2 linked regions of the Homo sapiens genome follow. The protein of the gene in region 2 purifies or fractionates together with the protein of the main gene of each other region. This does not show direct contact. Each region holds a gene or a part of one and is shown on either strand. Other genes may lie near its edges.

What was found. The genes of interacting proteins can lie anywhere in the genome.
Region 1: the proteins of PPIP5K2 (region 2) and ZBTB8B fractionate together in Homo sapiens (co-fractionation; one large-scale study listed by BioGRID). This does not show direct contact.

What each region holds. Positions count from the first base shown.
Region 1 is NC_000001.11:32,467,699-32,472,617, forward strand, and holds part of ZBTB8B (zinc finger and BTB domain-containing protein 8B), read left to right. Parts: intron 1-2,885; 5' UTR 2,886-2,926; coding exon 2,927-3,917; intron 3,918-4,919. UniProt on the Homo sapiens protein: May be involved in transcriptional regulation.
Region 2 is NC_000005.10:103,126,050-103,130,968, forward strand, and holds part of PPIP5K2 (inositol hexakisphosphate and diphosphoinositol-pentakisphosphate kinase 2), read left to right. Parts: intron 1-3,256; 5' UTR 3,257-3,540; coding exon 3,541-3,654; intron 3,655-4,919. UniProt on the Homo sapiens protein: Bifunctional inositol kinase that acts in concert with the IP6K kinases IP6K1, IP6K2 and IP6K3 to synthesize the diphosphate group-containing inositol pyrophosphates diphosphoinositol pentakisphosphate, PP-InsP5, and bis-diphosphoinositol tetrakisphosphate, (PP)2-InsP4.

The sequences.
Region 1 (4,919 bases), on a different chromosome or scaffold from region 2:
GCTTTCAAAGGGCTTGTAGTTCATTGACAGAGAAGGGCCAGGACATAAATAATAAACAGGAGTTAACCAAGGGTAGTGGAATCAGTCAGTTAGGAGTCTCCCAGTTGCATGAAATAGAAAACCCAACTCAGAGGCCAGGTGTGGTGTCTCACACCTGTAACCCCAGCACTTTAGGAGGCTGAGGGGGGCAGATCACTTGAGGCCAGGAGTTCGAGACCAGCCTGGGCAACATGGCAAAACCCTGTCTCTACCAAAAGTACAAAAAAAATTAGCCTGGCGTGGGGGTGGGTACCTGTAGTCCCAGCTACTCGGGAGGCTGAGGTAGGATGATTACTTTAGCCAGGGAGGCGGAGGTCAGAGTGGGCCGAGATCACACCACTGCACTGCAGCCTGGGTGACAGAGTGAGACCCCATCCCCCATCTCAAAAAATAATAATAATAATATTTAAAAAAGAAAACCCAACTCAGACCAGCTAAACCAAAAAGGAACTTAATTGGCTTCTGGCACTGCTTGAGTTGGGGCTCCAATGTTGTCCCCAGGCTCCATCAGCCTGAGCTGGGCTGTCATCTTTGTTAGGCTGACTTCCCTGGTGGTATGGCAGCAACATCCCTCACATCCTGCATCCCACAGAGCAAAGAGTGCTCTTTTTTGAAATTCCAGCAAATGTTTCATTGCTTTTCATTGGCTCTGAAAACTACATGGCCATCTCCGAGCCAATCACTGTGGTCACAGGGTGGGATGCCTTAATTTTATTAGCCTACATTATAGCTTACACACCTGGTGCTTGAGGATGGCACCAGCTTTATGCAAAGCATGTTGGCCAAGAATGGGGGAAGGATGCTTCCATCAAAGCCGAAAAAAGGCACTAGAACCAAAAGAATGGGGAATGCATGCTGGCTAGCCCAAGAATCCACCAAATACTTCAGTATAATGATGATAAAGGGAGACCAGTCTTGTTCGTGACCAGCCTGGGTAACACAGTGAAACCCCATCTCTACTAAAATACAAAAAATTAGCTGGGTGTGGTGGCATACACCTGTAATCCCAGCTACTTGGGAGGCTGAGGCAGGAGAATCGCTTGAATATGGAAGGCGGAGGTTGCAGTGAGCCGAGATCGCGCCATTGCACTCCAGCCTGGGCGAGAGAGGGAGAATCTGTCTCAAAAAAAAAAAAAGACCAGTCTCAAAGTTTTGAATTGGGACACTGGAGGCTGGGTGTGGTGGCTTATGCTTGTAATCTCAGGACTTTGAGGGGTGGAGGCAGGAGGATCGCTTGAGGCAAAGAGCTTGAGACCAGCCTAGGAAACATACCAAGACTGCCATCTCTACAAAAAAAAATTTTTTTTTAATTGGCCAGGCGCAGTGGTATGCACCTGTAGTCCTAGGTCTTGGGAGGCTGAAGCAGGAGGGTTGCTTGAGCCCAGGAGTTTGAAGGTGTAGTGAGCTATGATCACACCATTTGCACTCTGGCTTGGGCGACAGACCCAAGACCCTTCCTCTAAAAAAGAAAACCAGTTTCAGATTGATACACTAAACACTCAAGTATAATTTTTTTTTTTTTTTTTGAGACAGAATCTCACTCTGTCGCCCAGGCTGGAGTGTAGTGGCGCAGTCTCAGCTCACTGCAACCTCCGCCTCCTGGGTTCAAGCAATTCTCCTTCCTCAGCCTCCTGAGTAGCTGGGACTCAGGTACCCGCCACCACGCCTGGCTAATTTTTAGTAGAGATGGTAGTTTTAGTAGAGATGGGGTTTTGCCATGTTGGCCAGGCCGGTCTCAAACTCCAGACCTCAGCTGATCTGCCCGCCTCAGCCTCCCAAAGTGCTAGGATTACAGGTGTGAGCCACCGTGCCTGGCCTCAAGTATAATTCTTAGATGTGGATATTTTCTATAGTTTGAGCCTTGAAGAAAGTAGAATGTAGTACATTAGAGCATTGGCTCTGGAGGCCAATAGACCTGATTTTGAGTCCCAGATCTGTTACAACTGGGTCATCTCCTACCCTCAATTTCCTTATCAGAACAAGGGAGACAATATTAATATTTACTTACAAGGTTTTTATAAAAATTCATTGAAAGAATTCATGTAAAACAGTAAGCACTGTGCTCACATGCAATTAGCTATAGTTATTTTTTTCCATAAATTAACCCAGTTGGATAACCTCTTATTTTTATTAGATCCAAAGCAGACCATATTATTATTATTATTTTGAGACAGAATCTTGCTCTGTCACCCAGGTTGGAGTGCAGTGGCACAATCTTGTTTCACGCAGCTTACATCTCCTGGGTTCAAGCGATTCTCCCACCTCAGCTTCCCTAGTAGCTGGGATTACAGGCCCGGCTAAGTTTTGTATTTTTAGCAGAGAAGGGGTTTCACCATGTTGGGCAGGCTGGTCTCAAACTCCTGATTTCAAGTAATCTGCCTGCCTTGTCCTCCCAAAGTGCTGGGAAGCCCATATCCTAAAGACACTATTGCACCACTGGTTTTGGAAAAGTTGTTTAAAATTTTTAAAAGAAATCTTATTGGCCGGGCGTGGTGGCTCACGCCTGTAATCCCAGCGCTTTGGGAGGCCGAGGCGGGCGGATCACGAGGTCAGAAGATCCAGACCATCCTGGCTAACACGGTGAAACCCCGCCTCTACTAAATATACAAAAAATTTGCCGGGCGTGGTGGCAGGCACCTGTAGTCCCAGCTACTCGGGAGGCTGAGGCAGGAGGATGGCGTGAACCCAGGAGGCGGAGGTTGCAGTGAGCCGAGATTGCGCCACTTCACTCCAGCCTGGGCAACAGAGCAAGACGCTGACTCAAAAAAAAAAAAAAAAAAAAAAAAAAAGAAATCTTGTTTGTAAAGGTTGGGATTTGTGAATTAACTTAAGAAAAATCTTGGCAGAGATACAGGTTTGCTCTGGAGCAGCAGCAGCTGGCGGAGCAATGGAGATGCAATCCTATTATGCCAAGCTTTTGGGGGAGCTGAATGAACAGAGAAAGAGGGACTTTTTCTGTGACTGCAGCATCATTGTGGAAGGGCGGATCTTCAAGGCCCACAGGAACATTTTGTTTGCTAACAGCGGCTACTTCCGAGCCCTGCTCATTCACTATATCCAGGACAGCGGGCGGCATAGCACCGCCTCCTTGGACATTGTCACCTCTGATGCCTTCTCCATCATCTTAGATTTCCTCTATTCTGGGAAGTTGGATTTGTGTGGGGAGAATGTGATTGAAGTGATGTCGGCTGCCAGCTACCTGCAGATGAATGACGTGGTGAACTTCTGCAAGACATACATTAGGTCATCCCTCGACATTTGCCGAAAGATGGAGAAGGAGGCTGCTGTGGCTGCAGCAGTGGCGGCGGCAGCGGCGGCGGCTGCAGCGGCGGCAGCAGCGGCGGCTCATCAGGTTGACAGTGAAAGCCCCAGTTCAGGCCGGGAGGGGACCTCCTGTGGTACCAAGAGCTTGGTCTCCTCTCCAGCCGAGGGAGAAAAGAGCGTGGAGTGCCTGAGAGAGTCCCCTTGCGGTGACTGCGGAGACTGCCACCCCTTGGAACTGGTGGTGAGAGACAGCCTTGGCGGTGGCTCGGCTGACAGCAACCTCTCTACTCCACCCAAACGGATAGAGCCCAAGGTGGAATTTGATGCTGATGAAGTGGAGGTGGACGTTGGTGAACAGCTGCAGCAGTATGCTGCCCCGCTGAACCTGGCCCACGTGGAGGAGGCCTTGCCAAGCGGCCAGGCGGTTGACTTGGCTTACAGCAACTACCACGTGAAGCAGTTCCTGGAGGCGCTCTTGCGCAACAGCGCTGCCCCGAGCAAGGATGATGCAGACCATCACTTTTCTAGGAGTTTGGAAGGAAGACCAGAAGGTGCAGGAGTAGCCATGAGTTCCATGATGGATGTCCAGGCTGACTGGTATGGAGAGGACTCAGGTGAGCTCCCTTAGCATTCATCAGCCCTGCCAGTGATTGAGTACACACTGTCTGTGCCTTGTGTTCTCCCATCATCATGATCATTATCACCATCATCATTGTCACTACCAACATTATCAGTACCATCATCACCAGTACCATCATCATTACCATCATCACCAGTATCGTCATCATTACCATCATCACTACCATCATCACCAGTACCATCATTACCATCATCACCAGTACCATCATCATCATTACCATCATCTCCAGTATCACCATCATCAGTACCATCATCATCACTATCATCATCACCAGTACTATTCATTACCATCATCACCAGTACCATCATCATCATTACCATCATCTCCAGTATCACCATCATCATTACCATCATCATCAGTACCATCATCATCACTACCATCATCACCAGTACCATCATCATTACCATCATCACCAGTACCATCATCATCACTACCATCATCACCAGTATCACCATCTCATTATGATCATCATCAGTCACCATTATTGCCACCACCACCACCACCAATATGCATTAATTGAGCACCTGCTATATGCAGGGCATTATTTCTTCATGTATGTTTGTGTTTTACCTCTACAACTGGAATGTAAGTGTGTTGGGGGCAGTTTGGAGACATGGGAGGAACCCACTCTCTTCCACTAACCGGCAGTGGGACCTTGGTTAAATCATTGAATCTCTTTGAGTCTGTTTTGTCATCTGTAAAACGGGAATAATCATCCCTGCCCTGCCTCTCTCACAGGTTTGTTGTGGGGACCAAATGAGAGAGTTTTCAGAACTTTTTCTCACATATCATCTTAGATTTCCTCTATGCTGGGAGGTCAGTTTTGTGTGGGGAGAATGAGATTGAAGTGATGTCCAGAGATATATGCTCCAGAGATTTATACTTCTCTGTGTCAGCCAAGGTGCTTGTCAGAGACTAGGCACCCAGCCTGGCATGCTTGATGATGCCATCTACTTGAGACTATTTGATTGATTGA
Region 2 (4,919 bases):
ATGCCAAGCATACTTCTGCTTTAGAGGCTTTATACTTGATGTTTCTTACCTGGAATGTTCACACCATATAACCCCATGGTTGGTTTCTCATTTAAATTAAATTTATATTTAAATGTCACCTTATTAAAGAGGTCTTTCTAACATGTATTTATTTGTTGATTTACCTAGTCCCTCACCAAATGAATGAATGAGACATGTTTCAGACCTAAGGTCATAATCAAATGAGGGACATATATCTATATACTTCATACAGCATTACAGACTTAAACAGAACTTGAATAAGTTAACAAAAGGGGACAGACCAGTCATTAATTCATACCCTTGGGAAAAAAAAATCTATTGGATACATACTTTTTTTTCCCCGAAAGTTGATTTCTACTTACACACATATTTTGTAAAGTATTTCAAAAATGTGGGAGAATTATATTGAAAAGACTATGTATTAGTCAGGGTTCTCTAGAGGGACAGAACTAATAGGATAGATATAGCTACAAATGGGAGTTTATTAAGTAGTATTAAGTCACACGATCGATCACAAGGTCCCACAATAGGCCATGTGCAAGCTGAGGAGCATGGAAGCCAATCCGAGTCCCAAAGCTGAAGAACTGGGAGTCTGATGTTTAAGAGCAGGAAGCAACCAGCACAGGAGAAAGATGCAGGCTGGGAGGCTAAGCTAGTCTATCTAGCCTTTTCACGTTTTTTTTTTTTTTTTCTGTCTGCCTTATATTCTAGCTGCACTGGCAGCTGATAAGATGGTGCCCACCCAGATTAAGGGTGGGTCTGCCTTTCCCGGAACACTGACTCAAATGTTTATCTCCTTTGGCAGCACCCTCACAGATACACCCATGATCAATACTTTGCATCCTTCAATCCAATCAAGTTGACACTCAGTATTAACCATCACAGAATAGTAGGAAACACAGCCCAATAGGTCTGCACAGCTACAACCATTAGTTCTGCCATTGTGTCATGGACTTATTAACTGATTCTTTAAATTTTATTTGTATGTATTCCAGACTTTTTCCAATGAATACTCTAAAAGGCTAAAAAAAATTAATTTTCAGCTTTACCTCTAAAACAGTATTGTTCTCACTTTGTTAGAACACTTTAACTAGAAGGAAGTACAATACAGTTTTAAAATAATGTCATAAAATGTGTGTATACACACTCATATTCATGTATGTATACATATAAGTACATACCTATATATTGCATTGACATACTGGACCTGGCATTTCCTATCATTGCCATTCTGAAGTAGATAGACATTTATTACATTATTACATGTTTCTATTATCTTTTTTATTGGTGGTTTATCACACTAAAACAGAAAATGTCAATTTATTTGGCTATCTTCCTACTAGACTAAAAGCTCCTTAAGGAAAAGAGCCATGTTTACTTTGACTTTATATAACCAGCACTTAATACTATGCCTTCTATAATAAGTAAATAGTGTTTGTTGGATAACTATATTCATTTCAACAAATAATGAACAATTCATTCTTTTAGATTTACATGTTAGAGTCAGTAGGGAGTTTGGTTTACAGGAGTGTTCATGGAAACTATGGTTTATTGAGTGTTTAATATACGCCAAGCACTTATGCTATCTCACTTAGTCTTTACAGGGTTACAGGGTGTTACTATACTCCCTTTTTTATAGACTAATAGCAACTAGCACAAGTCACTAGTTAAGCACTGACAGATTAAAACAGATGTACCTGACTCCAGAACATTCCCCTTCCATTATCGAAATATTTGAGCTGTTTTTAGATGGAAAGAGTAAAAAAATTGAAAGAAACCAAGAGATATTTGCCATTTGATAGGAAACAGAACTGAGATCAACTTATCCACCAACATGAAGTTTTACAGCCACTGGAAACTTTCTGTTGTTGTTGTTTTTTTTTTCAGTAAACATTTTTACATGTTAAACAGTACAGAGGAATAGAACAAAAGGCATTGATTTATAAAGTAAATTATTTCTGCTTTTATTTTTAAATTACAAATTATTTTAAATGTAACGCTGTATTTTAAAGATGGTTAAAGTGAAGGCTGACTGGGCAAATTGATTTTAATGTCTACTGGGGAGTCACCAAGTTATACTGGAATTAGATCTTTAGGAATAGAACTTTTGGAGTTATGCTTTTAATTCTACCTAGCATATTGTTTGACTTTTAAGAATATTTGATCAAGTAATTTATTGTACTACCAGTAATCAAATGAAGCATTTGTTATGTAGTTTCATCTTGGTATATAATTAATTTTAATATGACCAGGAAGCAAGTACATGTAAACAACTATGGTAAGGAATATTTTGAGATGCTACTGCTCTTATAGTTCTTATTTATTTATTTATTTATTTATTTATTTATTTATTTGAGACAGAGTCTTTCTCTGTTATTCAAGCTGGAGTGTAGAGGCACAGTCATAGCTCCCTGCAGCCTCAAACTATTTGGCTCAAGCCATCCTCCCACCTTAGCCTCCCAAGTAGCTGGGATTACAGGTGTGAGCCAATGAGTCCAGCTATGATAGTTCTTTAACTGATACTCATGGACGCCTGGTTATGTGGAAGAGTTTGAATGTCAGTGAATCACATAAAATTCTTGCAGAATTTAGTGCACATGTACTTTTTTTTTCTGGGGAGGAGATCCATAGATTTTATTAGATTTGTTAAAGAGTTTTTGACTTCTACATGTTTAAGAGCTGCTGTTAAATGAAATCTTGTTCTGACTCTAATCTTTTTTTGTTCATTTATGTATGAGACCAGAATATAGAATTGTTATGTTCCCTAAAAAAACTGTTTACAGACAACTTTTACAAATTGACTTAATGTAATTTCAGATTAATATTTGTCAGTGGCTTTTAAAGCTGCATTCCATTTGTCTGTTCTTTTCCATTCCATTCAGATATTTCATAACTATGTGCTAAGAGATTTAGCTTTAATATAATTTTGTTATAATTTGAGTAATTTTCTCTTAATTAGTTTAGCTATTTTGGGATGAGGAATTTAATGTGTAGTCTTTTTGTTAATTCATATGTTTGTCAAATTGCTAAGATGTATATTACTGAAGATCAGTTTTAGTTTCTTAATTTTTTTGCTTTTATTATAAGTAATTTTCTTATGGGAGAAAATGTATTTTCATTTTGACAATATACATCAAGTTATTGGGCTGATTTTACAAGTGTCATTAAAAATTATTTTTTACATGAATGTTTTTGGAGTGCACTCTCCAAAATTAGTTTTTTCATTGCATTTTAGGTAAGAAGATTGCTGTATCAACTCAAGAAAGCAGTAACTTCACTGTCTTTGTATTTTGAATTGCAACAACAACTTTGATATCAACAATGAAGCAATGATATCTAAGAACAAAAGAGTATTTGCCAACAGTCATCATAATATCAAGTGATTGTATAAGCAGAAACAAGCTGTCACAGACCTGTGCGTCAGCTAATATATGGAGAATGCTTTCTTCTGATACTATTTACTTAGAGGCAGTTTTAATATAAATCATTTCAATTATATCTACATCAAATAAAATAAAAATGAGTGAAGCCCCCAGATTCTTCGTTGGACCAGAAGATACAGAAATAAATCCTGGAAATTATCGACATTTCTTCCACCATGCAGATGAAGACGATGAGGAGGAAGATGATTCTGTAAGTTGTTTGTTTTTCCTTTGGCGAGAGAAGACCAATACAGTATAGGCTTTTTACTAATCACTGTTAGTCTTTTTTTGTTGGAAAATTTTTGAACTGAAAAAGTATATTTTGTTTCATGACTGATGTTGTTGAATCTATGATGAATCAATAAATACAGTTATGGGTCAAACCTTTATGTTGTTTAATGATGCCTATTTTAGTTTCTTTCAGTGATACGCATAGTGTAACTCAGTGTTAGGTAACAAAAGTGGCAAAGAGAAACAGTAATCTGGGCCATAAATCCAAAAGCTTTCTTGTATGTAGAAATACATAACAAATAATTGAAGATAGGTGGAAGGAAATAATTTTAAAGTTACAAAAGAAGAAGGATTACTTAAATAGATTCATTAAGCTTCTGTTACCAATGTGAGTTCTGGTTGAACCGAAGATACTCATATTTATTAACTTCAGAAGTCTGAAAACTGAGTGGCTAGAAGGGTAGGCTACCTAAAAAGTATCTATGTGTTTGTGTGTGTGTCTAAAACTTGTTCTCTTTCTGATATCATGTTCTATCCATACTGGATCTTAGGAATGATATATATTTATTATGCTCATTTTGCTATAGTTACATTAGACCAATATTTTTCTTACTCATCATTTAATTTTTTAAGTAGAGATTGCTTTACTGTGAATACTGATTTAAAATACAGACCTACAGTATGTGTTTGTTTTTCATATATTTCTAATTGGAAAGAGAATTTAGTTTTAAGAGAAAAACCTGTTCTATTTTGTAAAAATAGTAAAAACAAACCAAAAATATTGATTAGATGACTCTTTAAGCCCCTTTTTATATTAACAATATCTTTCACAGTGGAGTTACACATATCTGAAATGCAAACTCTACTGTTAACTCATTTAAAACCTTCAACGCAGAGCACCTTTGCTACCTCCTGCCCCTGAAAAACTAGATTTTCAGGCAGGCTTCTCTTACCAGCTCAAACTTTTCTTCATCTGAAGTTTTATCTAGAAGTCCTATAAGTAAAACATGAAAGCAGAGCGTCTCTGGCTCACTTAAACTAGAAAGCACTATTGACTCAGCCTCTACTACCTTTGTCCCCTTTTTCTAGAGTTTTTCTGAACATGGTATGAACACCACTAGCAGATCAAAGCCAGGCTTCTTACATGTAAAGGCTTTTATGTCTCATCTATATCTACATCCATACCTCTCTCCCATTCTTTCTACCCTCTATGTTTTAGTAACATCAAAATTTTTATTTCCACAT